2 linked regions of the Homo sapiens genome follow. The protein of the gene in region 1 interacts with the protein of each later gene in a pairwise test. Each region holds a gene or a part of one and is shown on either strand. Other genes may lie near its edges.

Region 1 (5,104 bases):
CCTAGACCACCTGAACCAAATTCTCAGGGAGTGGGGCCCCTGAATCTGAATGCTTCTCATGCTCCCCAAGGGTTTCTTATGCATGCTCAAGTTTAAGAACAAATAACCTGGAGGCATAATGTTTTCATTACAAAAATAGAGATGGGGTCTTGCTATGTTGCCCAGGCTGGTCTCAAACTCCTGGGCTCAAATGATTCTCCCACCTCGGCCTCCCAATATGTTGTGATTACAGGCATGAGTCCCTGAGCCCAGCTAGCATAGTGTTCTGATGCCCCGTCCTGGCCAGCTGCTCTATCTGTCCATTTACCCTTCCATTCAAGTTTTTTTTTTTTTTCCTTCTGAGACAGAGTCTCACTCTGTCGCCCAGGCTGGAGTGCAGTGGTGCAATCACAGCTCGCTGTAGCCCGGAACTCCTGGGCTCAAGTGATCCTCCTGCCTCAGCCTCCCAAAACGCTGAGACTACCAGTGTGAGCCACCATGTCTGGCCCATTCAACTCTTATTAAGCACCCAATATGTATGTAGCACCATGCTAGGTGCTGGGGACACAGTGGCAAACAAGACCATATGGCCCTGCCTCCTCCCCACCTTGCGGGGAGATCCAAAGAAGAGCAAGGAATAAGCAGGTCCTGGAAAAAGAGCAGAGGTGAGGATGGGGGTGGTCAGAAAAGACCTCCGAGGGGGTGGTCTTGTAGTTGGGCCTTGAAAGATGGGAAGGACCACCTGGGGGGAGTGGGGGCAGAGCAGTTTGGGTCAAGGTCAGAGCCTGGACCAAGGTCTTGGGTGCAGAGGAGCTTGATGCCTTGGAGGAACTAAGAGGAGGCCACACTGAGTGTGGGGGAGGTCGGGGAGGGCTGAAGAAGCCTAGGGGTCACGGTGTTGGGAGGCCCCTGGAAGCTGGGGTGCCAGCCTGCTCTCCCTGTCCCCTCTGTGATTCCCACCATCCTCCACCCTCGGCCCTATACAGGTATACTCAGTGCTGCCCTGACTGCTCTTGTCTAAAAGCCTTTGTGCAGGGCCCCCACTTGCACCCTGAAGGCTCCTGACCTCCACATCCATGAGGTGAAGCCTCAGCTAAAATCCACCCCTTCCACAACACTTTCCCAGGTCCTCCAGTCTCCCTGGCCTGTTCTGCCATGCCACATTGAACTGGGGGCCCACCCTGGGTAGAGAAGAAGCTTGCTAGAGGGCAGGGATGGTGTTCTCTTTGGACAGCTTCCCTTCCTAGAGCCCATCACACTACTGAAGCACAAGTAACATTTCTCAGCCTGGCCAGTGGCCACTGGGACCCATCCGGCTGTCTGCCTGGCTGTCAGTGCTGACCCCATCCAGGACTAAGGCAGGAGAGCCTGGAACCCTGGCACTGGTTCTCAGCAGGAGTGAAGGCAGAGGCAAGGCTTCCTAGGGACAGAGCCTGCCTGGGGGCTAGAGCTATGGAGGCGGTCAGGCCTGCGGTGGAAGGGACACGGTGGGGAAAGGGATGGTGGCCCACCAAGGGGGGTCCTGGCCCAGAAGCCTGAGAGCAGTTTCCAACCCTTGCCTCCCTGGGCAGCCCCTCGCCCGTCCCTGGCTCCTGGTCTTGGCCTGGCCACTGACCCACGGGCTACTTCAGCGCTTTATAGTGACTTCTTTCCACCTCTTCTAGGGTGGCCTAGACACAAGGGAATCAGAATCATTCCCTGGCATGTTCCGCCATGCGCCACTGACCTGGGGGCCCACCCTGGGAGAGAAGAAGCCTCCTAGAGCGCAGGGACAGCGTCCTTGTTGGACGCCTTCTCTCCCTAGAGGGAAGCACTGGGAATCGGAAGTTCTGGCCTTGCCACTGCTGTGGGCCCATGATGTCCGGTACTCTGCTGGGAGCACAAAGTGTATGACAAGGAGGCCACAACCCAGTGGGGGAGACACTTTAGCAACGAGGCTAAGTTTAGGTGCCATGCTTGGTGAGGTCAAGGGTCATGCCTGCCTTTGATCACTGCTGGGTCCCTAGTGCCTCCTGTGTTGCCTGGAACACACAAAGTGCTCAAATAAATAGCAATGCACCTGACCGACGCCGAGCCTGTTCCTCCCATGTTTATAAGGGACATGGGGGCTTGCTGTCCCCAAGGATACTGCAGTGACTTGCAGCTGCGACGTCCATGAAGCTCCCAGGCCTGTCTAGAGGCTTGGTGAGGTTTTCTGCCTCCTGCTTTCTTTCTTCTGACCTCTGCCCACCACTCCTTCCCTCACCCTCACTCTCATGAGTCCTTGGCAAGATCAGGGAGCAGGGCTGAGGAAGACACCGGCAGGTTCCTGGCAGCCACTGCCCTCTCCTGACTGGGCCTTGACTGTGTGACTCAGATGCCCACAGCCTCCCTCCAGCTCAGAGCTGGGCACTCCCTGCCCTCCACCTGCATCCAGCCTGCGCCTCTCCACGCAAAGCCCTCCCGGGCTGAGAGGAACCCTGCACTGGCCGCGGGAGAGCTGGATGATCCCAGTGAGAACTGGAGAGGGAAAGGAGGGTCCACACTGATTTCTCAGGATGGAGGCCTCGTCTGGCAGCACTTCCTGCTGCCCACGGCTCCCACACCTCTGCCCAGCCTTCGCTGGGTTTTCCTGAGAGGACAGGGACCCTCGCATCCCCTTTCTGCTCCCTCCAGGGACTCGGGCTTATTGCTGGAAGGATCTAACAGAGCACCTTCGAGGACAAAGACCTAGAGAGGTAAAGTGACTTCCGAAGGTCACACGGCTGGTCAGTGACAACGAGTCAGACATTGGAGGCCAAGACCCCAATCCTTCCCCCACACCATGTGCCTTGGCAGGGCTCCTTGGCACTGAGCAAGACGATACCGTGACCCCAACACCAGAAACGCCCGGCAAACGCCAGTGCTGTTCAGGCTCACGGTTCAGCTTCACTTTCCCTGCCATCCTTGTGATCTCCCTTACCCTCCAGGCTGGTTTCAAATCTTAAGGAAATGGAAGTCTGTTTTTGCTCGCAGAAAAGCCGGAGTCTCTCTAGTACACACTCCCGCCTGCAGAATGCAGATGGCGCTTGGGGTCAACTTCTGATTAAGAGTCTCCAGCTTGCCTCATCCTAGGCAGATGCTGCACACAAGGCTGGGCTTCCAGATCCGTGTGGAATCTGGGCTGCCACTAAGAGAGGCGGGGTGGGGTGGCAGCCCCCAGGGGCCAGCTGTGAATTCCTACCTTGGATGGGGCTCAGGTACTAGGGGCTCAGATGGCCTCTGCAGCCAAGCGGGTTGGGTCAGACTTGGTGGCTATGGCAGCAATGGGGCTGGGGCAGGGGCTCCCTGGAAGGGTGCAGGAGTGTGCTGCGTGGTGGGATGGCCGTCTCTGCCCCCAACCTCTCCTTGGGGGGCCCTTACCCTTCCTCCGTCTCGTTGATGATGTCGCAGATCTCCATGTTGAGGGCCCAGTCCTCGCTCTGCAGGGAGCCATCTGTGGCTTTCTCTGAGAAGAAACCAGGAGTCATAAAGTCATGAGGGGGTCCTGAATGGGTAAACTCAAACCGTGGGTGGGAGAGGAGGGGGGTGCAGGGCCGGATGAGATGGGGAGGAGGAAGATGACAGACACTTCCTGGGCACAGGGCCTGGCCCTGTGTGAGACTGCTCTATACACATTGTCCCATCGTCACTAGATTCTTGTAGCCACTGAGGCCGGAGTACCTCTGCTCTTCAATGGATGAGGAAACCATGACTCTGAGTGCACCAAAGGGATGCACCAGAGGGGAATCTAGGTGGGCCTCCGTGTGCTTATTCCTGACATGACAATATGGAGACAGTGCTTTGCTTCATTTCTGTAGATAAGATGTTCTCCCTTGACTTTAGAATTATCTTTTGAGCTGGGCGCGGTGGCTCACGCCTGTAATCCCAGCACTTTGGGAGGCTGAGGTGGGTGGATCACCTGAGGTCAGGAGTTGAGACCAGCCTGACCAACATGGTGAAGCCCCGTCTTTACTAACTACAAAAAAGTAGCTGGGCATGGTGGCACATGCCTGTAATCCTGGCTACTTGGGAGGCTGAGGCAGGAGAATCGTTTGATCCCAGGAGGCGGAGGTTGCAAAGAGATTGAGCCATCACACTCCAGCCTGGACAACGAGAGCGAAACTCCATCTCCAAAACAAACAAACAAACAAGCAAAAAAGAATTATCTTTTGAGTTGGTAACCATTCACAGGATACAAAATGTAAAAGTTCTCAAGTGGTATACAATGGAGCTAGGTAAATCTATCTCTGTCCCCTGCCCCAGCCCCCTCTTCCTAGAGGCATCCCCTGTAACCAGGTTCCTCTAGAATCTCACAGAGAGCTTCTTTACCTAGGAAGCAAACGCTCCATTACTAACAGGTCACCTGGCCCTCCTGTACCCTTCTGAGGCACCCACAGAAGGGACCGATGCCGAGCCACCCAGCAGAACTACCCCAAAGAGAGGTGATGATTCATGCAAGGTACCAGCACAGTAAGGTATCAGCACGGCAAGGTATCAGCACGGTACGGGCCCAAAATAAACACTCAGCAAGTGGTGGTGGTTCTTTTTAAAAAAAGTTGAGGCGAAAGTCACATAAAATAAAACTAACCATTTTACCATGTATAATTCAGTGGCATTTGGTACACCTGTAATACTGAATACAACCACCACCACCTCTATTCAGTTCCACGAAATTTTCACTTTGTGGCAGTTCCTAGGGTAAGATTTCCAGGCCGGGAGTCGGCTGCAGAGTTCTGGAAGCCTGTCAGGGCCATGGCCGGGACCACTGGCTGCAGGTCTGCATGGTAGCAAGCACCGGGCTTGGCAGCCTTTTGTGAACTGTAGTGTGGGAGGCACTAATTGGTATTACATGAATGATGAACGCAGGAACTCGCAATGCCAGCACCTTTGTAAACGGTCTTTAGGAAAGGGAGGTGCCGCATGGCCTGTTTTCTGTTCTCTGCGCCTTCCTAGATGCTATCTTCACGCGTCAACCACGTGCACACAGGAAATTTTGTGCCCTGTTTCTTGCAGGTAACGTTCCATTACACACATCACTCTGGCTGGTATGTATTGTGACTACATGGAGGACTGTGTGATAAGACAGGCTTTGCTCCGCCTTTTAAGGGTGAGACCCTGTTCTGAC
Region 2 (4,301 bases), on another chromosome or scaffold:
CCCAGGCAGTCTGATTCACGGGCCCCCTCTCTGAGCTAAAGATTTCTTTCAGAACTACCTGTGATACTAAAGCAGTGACATACCAGGGCACCCTTGGGCGGAAGGAAGCACCAAAGGACAGGGACCATCTAGTTGCTCAAAAGCAGAAGAGCAACTTGCATTGAGGGTGAGCTGGTATGAAAACACAATCACACATTGCTCAGGACGGTTTCTTCTCCTCCCTATTCCTACCTCGGCCCTGGCCTCAGGGCAGAAGTTCTGCATCAGACCTCAGGAGGAAGTGTGCGGGCCCTTAAGACACAAACTCCCATTCTCAGAAGAAAGTTGGTTGTGCCTCCAAGAGATGTGCCAAAAGATTCGTATATGATGACCATGGGAAAGATCCTAAACCATACTTTATTACGGAAAAGCTGTGAGCCTCACCAACATGGAATCTAAAAGACTGCGTGTGGAATTTCAAGGTAAGGGGGTAAAACTGGAACGTACTGGCACTTCACTTAGACTCTTTGGCAGAGTCACTTCGGTCACTCTCCTGATTCCCAGGGTGGAGGGCCAAGGAATGGTAAGGGGGGCCTGGGAGGCCACACGTACTTGGATTGTTATTGGGGATGGGCGCTGGCTGGGTATAATACGAAGGAGGATTCATGCCCTTCCCATCAGGCCCCGTCACAAGCCCCGTAGTTGGCCCAGGCATGGGAGCTGGAGGTGTGGGGTAATAACTGTTAACAGCCACTGTCTCTTCATAGGATGGAGGTGCGGATGGTGCTGAGGAAGGCCCAGTGGCCGCCTGGTAAGGTCCTGGAACCGACATTTTACCTAAAACAGAAACAGAACATACCAGATAAGAAATTCAGTTGATCTCTCCCTCTCTTTTTCACCTAAGTCTTCAATTTTCTTTCTGGCAAACAGAAATTCTGAGAAAATGACTTCCATCCAGCTTTGTCCAAAAGCTAGGAAGAGGGTTAATGTCCCTTCAAGACCCCAGAATTAATCAAAAAGTAAATAATTACTACCCAAAATCACCAAAACCTGGAAAATCCAAAGTGGAAACATCAACCAAATAAGGGTCATTTCTTCTTCACATCTTAAACCATTACCAGACAATGACCTACGTACCTTCCATATCTGGTGTTTCTTCTTCGTTGTTTTTTTTTGTTTGTTTTTTTGTGGTTTTTTTGGTTTTTAAACCACTGTGGTTTTCACTAACTGTTTCAGGTAACGGAAAAGATAAAGGCATTCAAAAACCAACCACAAATTATCACAAATAGCAAAGGGGCCAGATGCCACAAAATGCACACTGTATGATGCTATTTAAATAAAGGTCAGAAATAGGCAAAATGAATCCATGGAGCGGTTACTCTTGGAAGAGGAAGAAGAATCTGGAAAGGGGTATGAGGGGGCCTTTGCGGGGGGCGGGTCCTGTTCTCTTTCTTCACCTGGGGGCTGGTTACAGAGGTATGTTCAGTCTGTAAAAATCTCAGTTGTACAATTAAAATGTATATACTTTTTTGTATGTGTGTTATAGTTTTGTTTTTTGTTTTGTTTTATTTTTTTGAGACAAGATCTGTCACCCAGGCTACAGTGCAGTGGTGTGATCTCAGCTCACTGCAGCCTCCACCACCCAGGCTCAGGTGATCTTCCTGCCTCAGCCTCCCAGGTAGCTGGGACTACAGGCATGTGCCCCCCCGCCCGGCTAATGTTTTCATTTTTTGTAGAGATGGGGGTCTCACTTTGCTATCTAGGCTGGTCTTGTACTCCTGGGGGCAAGTGAACCTCCCGCCTTGGCTTCCCAATGTGCTGGGATTAAAGGCATGAGCCACCGCGCCCAGCCTCTGTGTTATAGCTTTTTAAGAAGGAAATACACATAGACTCCAGTTCTCATTTTGAAAAATGAGCACCAGAGCAGCCAGGCACACATTTTCTTTTGTGAGGGCAAAGAAAGGATTTCCCTCCAGCCCTGGCAGAGCTGCTGCTCGCCTAGAATTACACCCTGCACCCAGAGTGTGCTCCTGTCTGATGTTCCATGATCCAGCAGCCATGGGGCAGCTGGAAGCAGACACAGTGCTGTTCTTTGTGTGGCTGTTTTTCTAACTGGGCAGGGTTCAGGCTGCCTTAGAAGAGCCATTCAAACCTGTCTCGGGAGAAATGGGAAATGAGGCTCCGGGGCAGCGAGCCACAACCACCACTCCCCTCTCCCGACACTGTCTGCCTCATTTTCTAGAACTCGTGGGAAGCCAAGGCAGCAATTAATCCCACTGCAGGGAGAAGGGTAGAGTCCTTCTCAGAAGCCCTGCCTCTAAACCAAGCCCCAAAGAGGAGACTTCTCTGGAGGAACCGAAGAAAGGGTATTCACCTCAAAGTGGAAACAGAGACCAGGTGCGGTGGCTCACCTGTAATCCCAGCACTCTGTGGAGCCGAGGTGGCAGGATAGCCTGAGCCCAGGATCTCAAGACTAACCTGGGCAACATGGTGAGACCCCCATCTCTAAAACAAAACAAAACAAAAGGGCTGGGTGCAGTGGCTCATGCCTGTAATCCCAGTACTTTGGGAGGTTGAGGCAGGAGGATCACTTGAGCCCAGGAATTCACCACCAGCCTGGGCAACATAGTGAGACCCTGTCTCTACAACGAATAAAAAAAGTAGCCAGGTGTAGTGGCACACACCTGTAATCCCAGCTACTTAGGAGGCTGAGGCAGGAGGATTGCTTAATCCTAGGAGGTTGAGGCTGCAGTGAGCCATGATCACTCCACTGCACTCCAGCCTGGGAAACAGAGCGAGACTCTGTCTCAAAAACAAACAAACGAAACAAAGTGGAATAGAGGCGGGGGAGTGAACGTGATAAAAAGAAAGTCAGTAAGTAAAGATAGGTTGGGGCTGCATTCTAGAAAACTTTGAAAGTCCCTTGGAGAACACGTGTTCAAGACTTCTTTCTATCAGAGTGCTGTCCAACAGAATCTTCTGTGAGGATGGAAATGCTCTGTATCTGCTGCCCAATATAGCAGCCACCAGTCACGTAAGGTTATTGGGCGTCTAAAATGTGGCTTGTGGCCGGGCACGGGGGCTCATGACTGCAATCCCAGCACTTTGGGAGGTCGAGGCAGTGGGATTACTTGAGCCCAGGAGTTCAAGACCAGCCTAGACAACATAGTGATACCCTCTCTCTACAAAATTTTAAAAATTAAAAAAATTAGCCAGGCATGGTGTTGCACACTTCTGGTCCCAGCTACCCAGGAGGCTGAGGTAGGAGGATCACTTGAGCCTAGCAGGTGGAGGCTACAGTGAGCCATGATCATGCCACTGCACTCTAGCCTGGGTGACAGAGCGACACTCTATGTCTAAAAGAAAAAAAGAAATGAGCTAGTGTGAGTGAAGAACTGAATTTTTTTTGTTTTAGCTTCTTTTTCATCTTTTTACTTGCCAATGAATTTTTACTTGTATTTAAGTTTAAGCAATTTAAATGTGAAAACTAACAATTCAATTATTGGGAAGCTTTTATGTAAGTCTGGGACAACTTGAATATATGAATCATTTTTTCAATGGTAAATTTGATGAACACTGAATATAGATCAAAATGTTTTTTGATAAAAATTTAGCATTCAATTTGGGATAGAATGTCAATGTAAAAATACACCCTGGGTTTCAAAACTTAGTAGGAAAAAATGAATGTAAAATATCTCATTAATAATTTCTTATATTGATATATTAAAATGACCACAGCTTAGATATATGAAGTTAAGTAAAATGTATTGTTAATTTCACCTGTTTCTTTGTACCTTTCAAAATGTGGCTACTAGGCCGGGCATGGTGGCTTACACCTGTCATCCCAGCACTTTGGGAGGCTGAGGCAGGAGGATGGCTTGAGCCCAGGCATTCTAGATCAGCCTGAGCAACATAGGGAGACACTGTCTCTACAAAAAAATTAAAAATTAGCCAGACATGGTGGTGCACCCCTGTGGTCCCAGCTACTTGGGAGGCTGAGGTGGGAGAATCACTTAAACCCAGGAGTTCAAGTGAGCCGTGACTGCGCCACTGCACTCCAGCCTGGGCGAGACTGTCTCAAAAATAAATAAATAAAAACAAAATAAATAAAAAAGAGGCCAGACACAGTGGCTCACGACTATAATCCCAGTACTTTGGGAGGCCAAGGCAGACGGATCGCCTGAGGTCAGGAGTTTGAGACCAGCCTGGCCAACATGGTGAAACCCCGTCTCTACTAAAAATACAAAAATTAGCCAGGTGTGATATTGGGCGCCTGTAATCCCAGCTACTCAGGAGGCTGAGGCAGGATAATCACTTGAACA

The links.
Region 2: the proteins of TOM1 (region 1) and LITAF interact in a two-hybrid assay, tested with the Homo sapiens proteins (one large-scale study listed by BioGRID and IntAct).

Annotation. Positions count from the first base shown.
Region 1 is NC_000022.11:35,316,218-35,321,321, reverse strand, and holds part of TOM1 (target of Myb1 membrane trafficking protein), read right to left. Parts: intron 3,446-5,104; coding exon 3,361-3,445; intron 1-3,360.
Region 2 is NC_000016.10:11,555,920-11,560,220, forward strand, and holds part of LITAF (lipopolysaccharide-induced tumor necrosis factor-alpha factor), read right to left. Parts: intron 817-4,301; coding exon of another isoform or gene 812-816; coding exon 592-811; intron 1-591.